2 linked regions of the Homo sapiens genome follow. The protein of the gene in region 2 interacts with the protein of the main gene of each other region in a biochemical or structural test. Each region holds a gene or a part of one and is shown on either strand. Other genes may lie near its edges.

Region 1 (3,819 bases), on a different chromosome or scaffold from region 2:
ATGAGGGTTGAATTTTACATTTTAAGTCACTAATGATTTTAGTGATGGTAGTTTCAAAAGGATTTTCGCATCCATTTCTTCCTTTCTAATTTCTACCTTGCCAGTTCTGGCTCTCATTACCTCTTGCCTAAAATCCTAACTGGTCTTCTTACCTCCAGTTTCTCCCCTCCCCAATCCATCATCCTATAAAACGCTGCCTAATCAATCTTAAAATGCAGCTCACCTGCTCTAAAATCCCCACTGACCCACCACGACCTATAGAATTAAGCACCATATCTACTGTATGTATTCAGGATTCTTCACAAAAGCCCTATTCTACCTTACCAATATTACTTCTACTCCTCCTTTCATATCCTACACTCCAAAAAACAGTGGGCAGTCACTTCTCTTTCAGCAGAACCCACCCTGGAAAGCTTCTAAGTTTGAAGACACAATTACATTCCATTAAATACAAACTTTATTGCTCCCTCCCTTAATTTTTAAGCTCCTTAATTACAATTAGAAGACATAAAGGGGGAAAAACTCCCACTTACGATAGCAATAAAAAAGATAAAATACCTAGAAACAATAAATGTCAGGAGGCTGCGGCAGGAGGATCACTTGAGCCCAGGAGTTCCAGGCCAGCCTGGGCAACACAGCAAGAACCCATCCTCCCCACCTGCCCCCAAAATTAGTAATAATGCAATCTAAATTTTAAAAAAAATCAAATGGGTTGCTTTGTTTTTGGAATGAGACCTAGACAATTTTGAGACAATTCTTAAATTCACATAGAAAACTAACCATAAAAAAAAAGCTCAGAGGAGGAAATAAAGAAAACTGAAGGGACTAACCCTGTTAGACAGTAAAATATAATCTAAACCCTCAACAAATAAGACAGCGTGTTAATAGTTCACAAACAGGCAGACAGACTAAAGGAAGAGAAGTTCAAAAATGAAACAAAATATATGTGAGAATTCAGTATATAATGAGAAAAAAATGGACTAAATAGGTGAGGATGACTGTGTGGTTATCTAGAAAAAATAAAATTATACCTATAACACACTATTCATACAGATAAATGAAGCAAAGATTTAAATGTAAAAATAAACCCACAAAAATAGTAAGATAAAATACAACAGAATTCTTTATAAACTCAAGAATAAAGAAGGCTTTTCTAATTGACTCAAAATACTAAAGCTTAAAAACCTTCTAAATGTCAAAAAATCATAAGCAAAATCACTGAGTTGAAACTGGAAAAACTATTTTCAACTTATCACAAAGGATTAATTTCCCTAATGTATACCAAATTCCCACAAATTGGTAAAAAAAGAATCTCACAGAAAAGTGGGCAGGGTATATAAACTGACAACTCTCAGAAGAGAAAATACAGGTTTTTCTTAAGTATGTGTATGTTCAATTCATTCATAATAGAAATGCAAACTAAAACTACATTGAGTTAAAAAAATCAATTTTTCCACCTATTGGAGTAGCCAAAATATTTGTGGTAACAGGCTGTTTTGATAATATAGGATTGTAGGAACTCTCAACCACGGTTTTTGGAGGTACAAAATAGTAAAACCCTATGGAAAGTACTATCTGTCAACACTACAAATATATATAAGTTAACCCTTGAACAACATAGGATGGAACTGTGAGGGTCCACTTACATGTAGATTTTTTACAACCAAACTCTTATGGAATACAGTATTTGCAACATGCAAAACCCACGTATACAGAGGGCCAACCTTCTGCATACATAGTTCCACAGGGTCACTTGAGGGACCTGAGTATGCGCAGATTTTGGTATACGTGGGCATCCTGGAACCAACTTCCAGCATACACCGACGGACCACTGTACTCTTTAACCCAGCAACTTCGCTTCTAGTAACTTAGCCCCAGGTTATATTTGTACTTGTTGAAATTATAGCTATACAAAGTTATTTAGCACAACGCTGTACAAAATAGCAGAAGGTAGGCTATCTAAAATGTCCACCAATGGAGTAATTAGTTCAATAAATTATGGTATATCCATACGAAGATACTATGCCAACGTAAAATGCAATCGGGAAGAGGAGAAATGAGGCCTCGATATCTACTCAAGAGAGTCTTTAAGATCCGGCAGACTGTCATCATAAGAAAAAGAGCACAAAACTCTATTTCATAAATATCTAAAAGCAGTAGTTATGGCTCCACATACATCACAAACAAAAACCATGATTCAAAACCATGTATACCATGCTAACATCTGTATAAAAAGGGGGGAAATATACATTTTTTATATTTACTTATATATACATAAAAATATCTCTAGAATTATACAGAAAGAAATAAAAGCTACATGGTGTTCAGAGTGAGAACTCAGCGAATGAGTAACAGAGATGGGAGGGAGATACTTTTCATTAAATACTTTTTATGCTTTTTTATTTCTGAATGTAGATACATTATTTTATTAAGGTGAAATTTGATTTGTATTTGAGGGTGAAATTCTGTAAACAGGAGCATTACATAAACACTATGTAATATTTTGACAAAGGTAACTCCAACCAAAACATTGTTCAAGCTGAAAATATCTGTTCATGCAACCACTGAGCTTACTCTACTTTGGCATGGAGTAAGCATATTTAAGATGGCTCAACTAACTTTATAAAATTATAAACCAGATTATGAACTTCAATTGTACTCGAAAACATTCAATTTCTAAAATTAATATTCCTGGTTATCAGGCAGCTGTTTTTATAATAAATATTTCAACCTATTCAGAAACAATATATAAGCACATTTTTAAAACCACAGTATGTATGACTTTGCTGATTAATCTAAAAATCTAAGCCAAGTACCCAGTTGTTCTACAACTGACGGGAATTACTTTCCATAAATTGGCTAACATACAAAGCCTTTCATAAAAGGCTGAGAATTACAGTGTTTTGCAACATAAAGGAACTTTCCCATTTCAGAGACATTCCCAAGGTAGTGCTATCCACAAAAGATGAGTTTACTGAACCGAAACGTTTTGTTTCTAGTGCACCATCTCTTCTACTACATCATACTTCTTTCCACAACAGCTTACCTCTTAGGGATGTAAGGGGAACGTTCTCAGGGCTAAGTTTTAGAACCCAGAAAGTGATAAAAATAAATCTCAGAGAGACAGGACAACTCTTCATGACTTTATAAAAGATATATTTTGTGACAGGCAACTCTAATAATAAAATATTAGCAAAACCACTATAGTACCATTCAAACCATGTCTGGAACTCTGCAATCACAACATTAATAAAATATATTGCTATATACATTACAAATAAACCAAAACCTAAAAAGTAAGGATCATGATTTTTATTCTAGGTAAATTTTATCTGTTTCATGCTTGTATTTCTTGACTTTAATTTCTTCAATCTCTTATCATTATTTTTACCACTAACCCCATAGCATATCAATGATAGTTCCATTTTTCTTGAAAGGGGATTCAAGCAAAAAAAAAAAAAATTATAGTTCCAGGAGGATTTTTTTTATGGAACAAAGTATTATAGTATCATTTCCCAAATTTCATTTAACTGAACACTTTATCTTCAGCTGATGTTAATGTTTTCGTTTATCTCAGGGAACAATAAAGAATGTTGCATTTTAAAAAGCTTACTTTCTGAATTACTACCAAACCCCAAAACAAGGACAAATTAGAAGGGGCCAAATGTCTCTAAAAGTATTTCTCATTGTTTATATTTCATCATATTAAAATCTAGAATGTTTTCTTCTGCCTTCCAGTTTTATCCAGTAAAATAAATCCAATACTGCTTACTTTCTTGTAGCCTTAATAATTCATGTGCAATGATAAGACAAAACTAT
Region 2 (3,819 bases):
CCCGTCTCTACTAAAAATACAAAAAATTAGCTGGGCGTGGTGGTGGGCGCCTGTAGTCCCAGCTACTTGGGAGGCTGAGGCAGGTGAATGGCATGAACCTGGGAGGTGGAGCTTGCAGTGAGCTGAGATCACACCACTGCACTTCAGCCTGGGTGATAGAGTGAGACTCCGTCTCAAAAAAAAACAAAAAAAAAACAAAAAAACTTTGTGTAGTTGTTATCAGAACCGTTATTGTACTAGGTATTCACTTTGGGCAAACAGAATTTTCACTTGTTAATATGCATATTCTATGGTTTATAGGCTTATATATTTTGTAAAGGTGTTTTGTTAAAATGACAATGTAACATTTATTCTGTTTGGTAATGGTTTTACTTATTAATTTTATAGAATTAACACTGAATCCTCCGGAAGGAATTGTAGCAGGTAAGGTACCAAAGTTAACTTCCTTATAATTTACTTTTAATTGCCAAAGTTCCTTCAAAGTTAAAATGTTGTGAAATTTTTTCTCACCCTACAGGCCCCATGAATGAAGAGAACTTTTTTGAATGGGAGGCATTGATCATGTAAGTTAATTTTAGGTGTACTAGTTTTTAGGGCTTTGCTGGAAGTCAGATGTAAGAATCACATCAGCAGTGTGACTGTGTCCAAAAGCATCAGCTGGAAAAAAGACTGAGTTCTCCAGTAATGCCCAGCTCTCGTCTAGGCTGCTGGTCTGAAAGCAGAGAACCTGAGCATTGATCCAAAAGAAATGAGTGTTTCCTTAGAGCCAGTCAAAGGTTTAGTTATAATTATGTAATATATGTATTATATATTTGAGAGTTTTAAGGTGGTAATTTTGGAATGTTGTATGATCGTGGTTAAAATAACCTCAAATGGCGTAGGTGGCTTTGGCTTCCAGAAGTAGCCCCTTCAGGTGTGAAATTTTGACGAGAAAAGGGTCCTCAAAGATGTGTCTGACCACACCAGGCATGTTAGCGCAGCCTTGCCTGCCCTGCCTTTGGGCCAGGACTTCTTTTTCTTCTCCTTTCCTCCCAGTTCGTATCTTCGTGTGCTGCATCTCCTTTTTCTGTTGCCTTGTCTGGACTTGTTGGCCTTGTGTTCTTTCCGACCCAAGACATGGCTTAGTAAGTGAGCAGTGTGGTTCTGGGATTCGTGGCATTTAACTTAGGGTGACGTTGCTTGGAAAGAGAAACACATGGACCCCTGATTTTAGAGTGTTCTATGGCCTTGACTCACTTTGCTTTTTCTTCTTTCTACCTTAGATGTGCAATTTTTGGCCATTCTTAGTGTATTTTCAGCAAAGTGAGGTTAAATAAAATTTAGGAAGTTGAAATTTGTAATCAGTCTCTGTTTTCTTTCTTTTCTTTTTCTTTCTTTCTTTTTTTTTTTTGAGATGGAGTTTCGCCCTTGTTGCCCAGGCTGGAGTGCGGTGGCACAACCTTGGCTCACTGCAACTCCTGCCCCTTGGGTTCAAGCGATTCTCCTGCCTCAGCCTCCCTAGTAGCTGGGATTACAGGTACCCACCACCGTGCCTGGCTAATTTTTGTATTTTTAGTAGAGACAGGGTTTCCCCATGTTGGCCAGGCTGGTCTCGAACTTCTGACCTCAGGTGTTCCGCCTGCCTTGGCCTCCCAGAGTGCTGGGATAACAGGTGTGAGCCACCGCGCCAAGCCCAGTCTTTGTTATCTCATTAGTGAGGTCTTTTAATTTGCAGCAAGGTCTTGGGTTGGATTTTGTTGCATTGAGAAGTGCTCTAGAGGGCAAGGACCGGAAAAGTGAGGGCTGTGAAACAAGTGTGGGCTCTGGCTTGAAGTGATCTTAAGCTTCATGATGCTTTTGGAATTCGCCAGTTGCTTGGATCACATTAATTCTTAATGCTCTATGGGTTGGTCTGAGAAACAGATTGCAGCTAAGTGTTGTCTGTGGAGGTTAAATTGATATGAAAATTAGTATTTTGGATAAACAAAATGTTTTTAAAAAATCATCAAACGCTATTCAGATGGTACAGCACGCCTGCCATTTCCTGATCATTTGTAATATCCTAATTGCTTGGGCCTATGGCACATGTTTTTTCGGTGTCTGAAGGTTTCTGGAATCTGTGTTTGTGTGTAATGTGGCCCCCAAGGCAGTTATGAGATGGATGGCGAGTCCCACAGTCTGGGCTGTCCTCATTAGTGGACTGTGCGGCTGTATACTTGTATCGGGGCAGCTCTTTTTATTTCTGTAGAAGCAGGAGATCATATACATGAACTGATGTGTAACCTGCTTGTTTCATGTGTTAATGCAGGCGCACCTGCACTCATGCCAGCGGGGCAGCACGCCTGCTGCAGGGGCCCAGAGTGGCGGGAGGCCTGTCTGTGTGTAGAGGTTGAAGGCGCCTGTCGTGTCTGCAGTTATTTGTGGGGTGTTGGCTCCTCCGTAGGCCTATTTGGAAGCTCATTAAAGGAACAGTTGAGCCGTCCAGTGTGGTTTTAAAAAAATGTTCATTGTTAAAAATCGATTAGGGTAACTATTACCAATTTTAAATAAACAGTGTAAAATTAAACCAATATTTTGAAAACCTGTCTTAAAAAGTAATTAGAACTATTTTTAGGTAGAGCACTTCTGTGTTTGAACAAGGCTTTTTGCATTAGTTTGGAATTCCCCTGCTTGAAGATCCTAGTGAGTTTGTGGGTTTTGGTCCTGTTCCAGACCCTTCACAAACAAGAGGCCGTTTACAAGTGCACTTAAAATGCCTATTAGGGAATTAACTGTCCTCCCATCGATTTGTCTCACCCTGCTATTTTGGCAGACATCTGGCCAAGTCTTTGCTCCTTGGTGATAAGTTTCTTCTTTTTCTCTTTATTCTTTGATGGCTTCCAGGGCCGCCTCTCTACCCTAGTATTTCTAAAACCCGTGCTTGCCTCACAGAAGTCGAACGGCTGTTGGTTTTTGCTGTTGTGCTTGCCTTAAGGGCCAGTGAAGAAAATGTCATTTTAGATATCTAAGCAACAAACACTAAGTGCCTTTGATATGTTAGGGCCCTTGTCTGAAGATACAGACATGTCAAAGATGCACTGAAATCTTTACCTTGGAAGACCAGGGTTGAGGGATTAGGATGGAGAATAGAACAGATTAGTGAATGAGAGGACTAAATAATGAGAGTCCGCAGGCTGTGTCTTTAAACACCGGGAATAACTCTGCTGACCCTGCCACGCTCATGGTGGAGTCTGAGCCTGCAATCAAATCGAGCGTGGCTGGGATGGCGGCACACCAGGGGATGTGGCCACCGTGGCTGTGGGTGCTAGCATGGCCTGCTGCTCTTGGCCCAGTCACTTTGCCTCTCTTTGACTTATTTGGATCAAAACAGAGAGGTTTATCAGCATCTTCTAGACAGATGGTTACAGGTCTTGCCCAGCTCTAGGGTCCATGGCCCGTGACCCCATTGCCACTAAGCCACGGTGACGGGGGTGTAGCTGCAGAGAGGGTGGGTGCCCTCTTTCATTGATGCACTTATGTGGGACAGAAGGAGTCCTAGACAGCTGTTCATCCCCAGTGGCCGGACAAGGCGTGGAGTCCCTTGGCGCTTGCTGTCCTCTGTGTCCTGCCCCAGCATTCCCAAATCAGCTGGCTTGGTGACCTTCTTGTCTGGTTCATGCCTGACTGCTGTCACCTCCCCAGACCAGTGGTTCTAGAGGCTGTGGTGAAATAAGAAGGACCTTCCTTTACTGAATGGTGTGTTTGGGGCCCAGTTGGTGGATGGATGCTCCCAGGTTCTCCAGCTGGCTCATGGCAGCCAGCTTGAGGGCTCCCAGGCTGCCGCGGCTTCTACCAGGAGCC

The links.
Region 1: the proteins of UBE2G2 (region 2) and RNF145 form a complex in vitro, tested with the Homo sapiens proteins (one study listed by BioGRID).

The regions. Positions count from the first base shown.
Region 1 is NC_000005.10:159,199,473-159,203,291, forward strand, and holds part of RNF145 (RING finger protein 145), read right to left. Parts: intron 1-3,819. UniProt on the Homo sapiens protein: E3 ubiquitin ligase that catalyzes the direct transfer of ubiquitin from E2 ubiquitin-conjugating enzyme to a specific substrate.
Region 2 is NC_000021.9:44,784,664-44,788,482, reverse strand, and holds part of UBE2G2 (ubiquitin-conjugating enzyme E2 G2), read left to right. Parts: intron 1-387; coding exon 388-423; intron 424-517; coding exon 518-563; intron 564-3,819. UniProt on the Homo sapiens protein: Accepts ubiquitin from the E1 complex and catalyzes its covalent attachment to other proteins. In vitro catalyzes 'Lys-48'-linked polyubiquitination. Involved in endoplasmic reticulum-associated degradation (ERAD).